Linked DNA regions of Homo sapiens. The protein of the gene in region 2 purifies or fractionates together with the protein of the main gene of each other region. This does not show direct contact. Each region holds a gene or a part of one and is shown on either strand. Other genes may lie near its edges. The genes, in order: DCC and PDC.

Region 1 (3,837 bases), on a different chromosome or scaffold from region 2:
GTGAGTACTTTGTTCTACCTTGTATCCTACCTACCTCTGTGTGTGCCTGTCACCTTCACTGGAGGAAAAGCCCCTGCAGGGCAGAAACTCATCTAAATCTTTTATTCATCTATTTGTAATCGTTGGTAAAGGCTCAGTAACTATTGTACTATCTTCAATGAAATACTTGGTCTTATTTGGTCCTTATAATATCTCAATGATTTTATTAGGCATTGATAGTCCTTCCTGAAAACTGATAACACAAGTTTTGAGAGACCATATGTTTGTCTATGGCTGTACAATAAGCTAAAGATGATGCTGAATTTGTATTTTATAATATGACTCTGGAGAGCTTACTTAGAAGAGCACATCAGAGTTAGGCCCCTTGATTACAAGAAAGATATAAACAAACTAGAGGGAGTTAAAGTAAGAAGACTAAACATGATTAAGCTTCTGGAGTGGTATGAGGAAAAATCAAATGAATTAAATATTTATAATCTGGTTAAGTAAAGACCAAATGGGGAGGCGAGAGTGATTTATAGCTCGAATTATTGAACACATTTCAGCCCAGAAGAGGCAGTGTCACTGAAAAGGGTATGCAGGAATCAAGAGCCAGATGACAAGGGTAATGGAAAGAACATTTAGAACAGGACTATCTCAGATGAATTGTAAAATAAACTTTTAACAGTAAAACTGATATGCTGCTGAAAACTTCCCCAAGGGAAACAGTCACCAAACCATCCCTGGAGATGCCTCAAACCAGAGAGAGAAAATAACCAGAAATTGTCCTGCAGGGAACAGCTCTGCCCAGACATTAAACATGAAAGGAAAAGCTTTGCAGATTCTTCTCTCTAATTTGTATTCTTCTGGGATCCCATGAGACTGAAAAAAGATGCAGGAACAATGGATTGAGGACTCTGGGTGCAGAGGGTTTGCTTAGATGTCTCAGCCTTGGCTCACATCTCTAATGAGTCTGCACAGAAGGCAACACACTACAGAGGCCTCTGCAAGTACATCTGAGGCTTTATTTCATTCAGGGGTCTTCATTAGCCTGTCCCATGGGAGCAGGTGAAAAAATTATAAACCCAAACAAAAATTGGGGGGGATGGTGCACAAAGCACATACGTTTGTTTGAAACCCACAGTTATATATGCCATAAATGTAACAATGATATTGGGCCTATGTATTTTACCATGTTGGAAATATACCCAAATTCAAATGATCATATTAAGATTTTTAACTCAGATTTGGTGTCTACCATTACTACTCTGTGTTTCTGTTATCCTTTAGTTCCATTATATTCAGGGGATTCATAAGGAGCCTCAAATTAAGCCTGGCATCCCAGCATCCTGCTTCCCTGTAAATGATTCTCTATAAAGACACAATAAACAGGATAAGGCAGGATACTAACATGGCAGGACTTGCTCAGGGTAATCAACAATGTTACAGTGACTAAGAATGTCTTTTCCAACTCAAAATCAGTGTACATTTTGGGAAGGTGCTTAAATAAAGCCTAGGCCAGAGTCAACATGGTAAAGTATTAGGCGACAACTTCCTGAACATTAGACTACTGATAACATCTATGCCTAAAAGCAAAGGGTTGCTTAGTAGAAGAAACAGAATAACTACCAATAATATTAAGGTCTAAAAGCAAATGTTGCTCAGTTGAAGAAACAGAATCATAGAATTGTCTTGCTGACATCACAAATAGCTAACAAATTAATGGAAAAAATGTTCAGACTTATAAGCAATCAGGAAAATGCGAATTAAACCCACAATGAGAAGTTACCAGATGCGGGCAAATTAAGCATATGAAAATACCAAGTGTTGGCAGAGGCATGAAGCAAAGAGGCCTTTCATCTGCCCCTGGTGGGGGTTTCAGTAACTGCAACATGTCTTTGCCTCCCGGATGAAAAGATACCCTTCTATGACTCAGCAATTCCACTCCTAGGTATGCACCCTAAACATGGTGGCAAATTTGTGCTGGTGGACATGCACCAGAATGTTTATGCCAACTTTACTAGCAATAGCAAAAAACTGAATTTCAAAATCCATCAACAATAGATTAGATAAACTATGGTTAATTAATATCATGAAGTATTATACACCAGAGAAAGTGACTGAAATACAGCAATATGAATCCACATAGATGAAACTCAGATACTTAACGTTCAGCAAAATTGCAAGTCAGAGAATATACACATTATATTTATTTTATTACTGTTAAGAACAGCCAAGTAAAGTAACATGTTAAAGATGTATACATATGTGGAAAAACTGTACAAAAGGCAAGGGGTTAATACAAAAATCAGAAAACTGCTAGTGGGTACATGGGTATTTGTTATTATTACATTATTATTATTGTTATCATGATCATGAATTGTATTATTAATTATACCAAACACTATATGTATAGTACAGTTCATAATTTAAATAAATTATATAGTGTTGAAACTAATAACTAGAGTTGATCTAGTCCACATTCTCATTTAATAAGGAAAAATACGTTGTACAAAGTACAAGTGACATCCAAATTAATATCAGATGCTACAGAATCATTAGTTAAAACTAATTAGATATTCCTCTAATAAGGGATTCAGGTGCTGTTTTCTAATCTCCTCTCCTACTTTAAACACAACCCCAACAAAACTTAGTCCCCTATGTCTTAACATCAAAACTAAAAGAGAGAACTGCTTTGAGGAAGTTTTATACAGGGAGAAGTTTCAGCTGAACACAAGATGTAGACAAAATATATTTTATAGCCAGAGATAAAACTCAACAATAGTAACAGTCCATGGTCAATTGATGGGAAAAATAAACAGTTCTGTATGATGCAATGCCTTCAAAAATTATCCCTATAAAATCACATAATACTATAATGAAGTCATAGTGATGTATTGTATCTATTAAGAACAGGTTAAATTATGTTCTACATACTTTTAAAGAGGCAGCTAAGTGAGTGGAGAAATATTTCTAAAAGACTATAGAAAAATAAGTAAAATCTAAAAATGTGATTTGAGTTAAAAACATTTATATTAACTGCTTAACTTCTTTTTTCTCTTGTCAAAATGTAAACACAGATTTAAGAACATTGTAGATGGCCCAGAATAATGTTGTATTGACAAGTCCTCTTATCAGAACACAATTCACTAACCAGTTGGTATTTTCATCAGATAACATCCTAAAGATTCAGTTAATTCAGTGGAACATGTTTGTCCTAGATACTCTTAGGAGTAGCCTTCAGGCAAGAACCAATATTTAAAGGATGAACCAGGAAGAAATCTCCAAATTGCAATAAATACTCCTGTTAAGTTTCATCATCATAACCACAAATGGTTTTAAAGGGTCTTCCTCCCTGGAGGGCCATGGTGAAATGACTGAGCAAGCTAAAAGTCAAAAAATTTGGATTAGTGAAATTAAGCTAAAGTATATCACGAAGTAGAAGTAGATCATAGACACTGGGCTCGTGGAATTTACTAGAAAAGAGAAACATTCCTACAGAAGTCATGCCATAAGAATAGCCTTAAAAATATGATCAATAAATATGGAATGATTTGTGTGTTTCCTACTTGAACTTTTCCCCCCAAGAAATGAAAGCTGTGAATAATATGGTTGTTTGGAACTATTAATAAAAGAGCAATATGCACTGGTATTACCATTGGCAAATTCCCATCAATATTGAAAAAGAAGGCATATTCAATCTTATGCATTATTATGTATTTCTAAACCACACCATTGGGACAAAGCTCAGGTATTTCTAAACTACCAAAGAAAACACTTTCACTTAATAGTTGAATTAAAGGGATTTAGTTGTTAAACCTCAGGCTAAAATTTGTCAAATAACTTTGGAGCACTATA
Region 2 (3,837 bases):
TGCCCACCTCAGCCTCCCAGAGTGCTGGGATTACAAGTGTGAGCCACTGTGCCCGGCCAGATTGGCAGATTTAAGTAAAACTAATTAAATGAAGGATGATTCAACTGGAATTCTGATATTCAGTTGACCTGATGACTAACAACGTTATTCATTTAAGAAAGTCTTAAATTCTTTAAAACAAGGAATATTAAACTGACTATCCTTCACTAAAGCTTAGCTATATCTACACCTTTAATGTCCATATTCTATATCATATTCTATATGTGGATGTATTCCTTCTTTCTCCTCTATATTGCCTAATAATTTTTGTTTTATATATGATATATATTTAATATAAATTTGTTATGAATGTGTTTATATTATATGCAGGCAATCAAAGCTTTTTGTTTTCACATACAGTGTTCATATCAATATTTTAGATATGTTTTATGCATATGCAAAATATACATGTGTGTATGTTTGTTTAAAAAAGAGAATCCATTTTGTTCGTGTTTTCTACAGATGGTGGTGTATTATCTGCATTTTTCCTTACCTTGTTTTTTCTGTTTCATACTATATCTTGGAGATTTTTTCAGTATACACACATGAAAAGGTTCTTCCTTATTTAGAAAATTGAGGCATGGTGTTCCATTGTGTAGATATACATAATTGACTTAAACTGTTTAATCGTGATCTACATTGTTGTTTCCAGTTTTTTCTATGACATATGATGCTGAGTGAAGAATCTTGTGCATACATTTTTAACACTCTGTGCAGGTATAGTTATGGTTATATAAGTAAAATTCCCTGGTCAAAGGGCATATACATTACTAATTTTGATATTGCTAGGTTGCCTGTACAGAGATTGTACCAATTTACACTGCTATCAGCAATGTATGAGGGTGCCAAAAATGTGTTATTAAACTTACTTGCTTTCACTATAGTTTTCTGTGTTACTTTTTTCTGTTTCTTTTTTTCCCCATGAATAGTCTGTCCTATCTTTTGCTCATTGTTCTATTTGGTAATTAGTTTCTTTTCTTATCGATTTGTAGAAGCTCTTAATATATATTAGGAAACTGACACTGTCAACTGAGTTGCAAATGTTTTTCCCCAATTTGTTAAATGCTTTTTGACTTTTGTTCCTGGTGACCTTTACCAGACAGCAGATATTTCCTTCCTTTTTTTCCCTGTCTCCTACTTTCCCTCCATCCCTTCATCCATCCATCCTTCCTTCCTTTTTATAAATGAATTTACCAACCTTTTCTTCAATGGTCTTTTTGTTGTTGTTTTTGTTTTTGTCATAATTAGGAAGGTATTCCTCACATTGCTATTATAAAATAAATCTCCACACATTTTGGCTGGTACTCTTGTGAATTCTTTCAAACTTCTGGCTAAATTTAATGGCTCAATCCAAATTAAAAGAGAGAGGAAATTACCATTCAAATAAGATTTAGTAGAGTTAAATGTGAATTTTTAAATTTAAGTTTTAAGCTCTTAGGAGTGGCATATAGATAGCCAAACATAATTTAACAGATTAAGAAAACAGACTCTGGATGAAATGAAGTGTTAAGTTTTCTGGAGGAATACTGAAATTTATTTATTCAAAAAAATAAAGGGAATATCTTATCATTCCCTTTATTAGATGAAAAAAATGAAATTAAAGGCCATTTATTAACCTTTTGGTCTAATCTTGTTTACAATGAAAGTTCATACTGAGGGTGGGGTACAATCAGGAGAGAGGAAAGTGGCTTAATTATAGTGTAGATAAGAGGTCTTGTGATAGCTGGGCAGCAAGAAATTACCAGTAATTGGTGTTTTTGTTTTTTTACTCTTTGACATCTAAATAAAACTGTTAGGAATTATTTGATTTCAAAAATTAATTTGCCCGCTCAAATATTTTTTAGATTAGCATAACAATTTATATAAAGATATTACTTAAAGTACATACTGAATAGTGTCAATAAGAACATTAGATATTGCCATATTTAATTTTAATTTAATAATTATTTTTTCTTCTAGCTTTGCTTGCCTGTATGTGTGGCCTGTCCTTCAAAGTCTTCCTCCAAACTTTGGCTTTTGGCTTCTTCCATTTTAGGGACTGGATTTGATATAATCTATAGGAGGAACAAAGAAATAATAATGACACAAGAATTCCAGGATGTACATACATATATATAGAGATAAATATATAGGTACATGCATATTTATAGTCTCCTGCTGCCAGATTCCATAAGTAGGCTAAGGATAATCACTCAGTGGTAAAGTAAGTGGTAAAGTATTTAGAATGTTTCTGTCCGCAATGTAAAAGGACATTAATTTAACATGTGTTATTAAAGATGTCTGGACTTAAGGATTTTATATAATTCATCATTTGTCTTTTCTTAACTCAAGCCTTCCAGTTAAGTCTATGTGGTTAGTGAACATTATTTATTACTGATTTTCCTAATTTCCTAATATTATGTGAAATTTGAATATATGACGTAATATATGTTACTTATTTCATATAATAAAAATTAAATTAATAATTATATACTTGCTATGAACACTATGTGTCAGGCATTGTTTAAATTATTTTATGTGTCAAAACTCATTTAATTCTCACATAGCTATATGTGGTAGGAACAATTGTTAATGACATGTTGTAACCGAGGAAGCTGAAGGGCAGAGAGTTTAAGTTACTTGCCCAAGATCATACAATAAGTGGTGGAGCAAAGATTTGAACCTACATTTTCTGACTTTGGAGCCAACTCTTAATCATTACACTATTATGGAAATTAACATTCTATAATAGAGTCATTTTTCTCAGTATGATTTGGCAAATCAAATCTTTGAATTGGCATTAAAAAATGATGGTCTAAGGAACACTATTCAATAGCATCTCTCCATACCATGGGACAAGTTTTCATGACAACAGTAGCCACCAAGCAAATGGAAATAGCCAGTAGGTAAGCCTATAGTATTTTTTTTTTTAAGTTTTTTGAGAGAGGGTCTAACTCTGTCTCCCAGGCTTCATTAAGTGCGATGGTGCTGTTTTATTTAGCTCACTGCAGCCTCAAACTTCTGGGCTCAAGTGACCTTACCACGTCAGTCTCCTGAGCGGCGGGGACTACAGGTGTGTGTTTGCGCCACCACGCCCTGCTAATGTTTTTTTTTATTTTTTGGTATGTTGCCCAGGCTAGTGTTGAACTTCTGGCCTCAAGTGATCCTCCCATCTTGGCCTCTCAAAATGCTGGGATTATAGGATTCAGCCACCACACCCTGCCGGTTTATAGTATTTTTGACAGGCTAAAATAGAAAATCACTAAAAGCACTTGGATTTTTATTCATACGAAACTCCTTGGTGCCCGCATGTAGAATCTATTCTTTCATTCTATCTGGTTCACACTCATATCAAATCTATTTCCTTTTTTAGCTTTGGACTATCCAGAAAACTCAATTATTATACATACTAACATATTCCCTCAGGGGTCCATATAGTTGTGATTTTCCTGAAGTTTTCAAGTCAGGGAGGATATACTAATCGTAGATAAACTATCTTATTTTTATACTTTATTCTTTCACTTTTTTTGCTTTGCCTCCTTCTTTCGAAGTCAGTTTTAGGCACTATATCGCACAGTTTATACTTTGAAACTCATCTTAGTTTTCTATTGATTTACACTTCAATCCTGCATTTGGTCTGTGTGGTGCTTTCCCAAGGCGCAGGGTGGTAACACAGAACTCTTTCTTGATTTCTCTTTTGCCTTTACCTTTGGTCTCAACACTTGGACTGGTCCTGTAATTTTGTTTCTCTTTTTGCAATCCCTATCCAGAATCACTGGAGGTCAAATGTCTTTGCCAATTTGAGTTTTTCCACTTGAA

Evidence for each region.
Region 1: the proteins of PDC (region 2) and DCC purify together in Homo sapiens (affinity purification with mass spectrometry; one large-scale study listed by BioGRID and IntAct). This does not show direct contact.

Annotation. Positions count from the first base shown.
Region 1 is NC_000018.10:52,346,429-52,350,265, reverse strand, and holds part of DCC (netrin receptor DCC), read right to left. Parts: intron 1-3,837. UniProt on the Homo sapiens protein: Receptor for netrin required for axon guidance. Mediates axon attraction of neuronal growth cones in the developing nervous system upon ligand binding. Its association with UNC5 proteins may trigger signaling for axon repulsion.
Region 2 is NC_000001.11:186,447,391-186,451,227, forward strand, and holds part of PDC (phosducin), read right to left. Parts: exon of another isoform or gene 3,789-3,837; intron 2,094-3,788; 5' UTR 2,070-2,093; coding exon 2,009-2,069; intron 1,335-2,008; exon of another isoform or gene 1,238-1,334; intron 1-1,237. UniProt on the Homo sapiens protein: May participate in the regulation of visual phototransduction or in the integration of photoreceptor metabolism. Inhibits the transcriptional activation activity of the cone-rod homeobox CRX.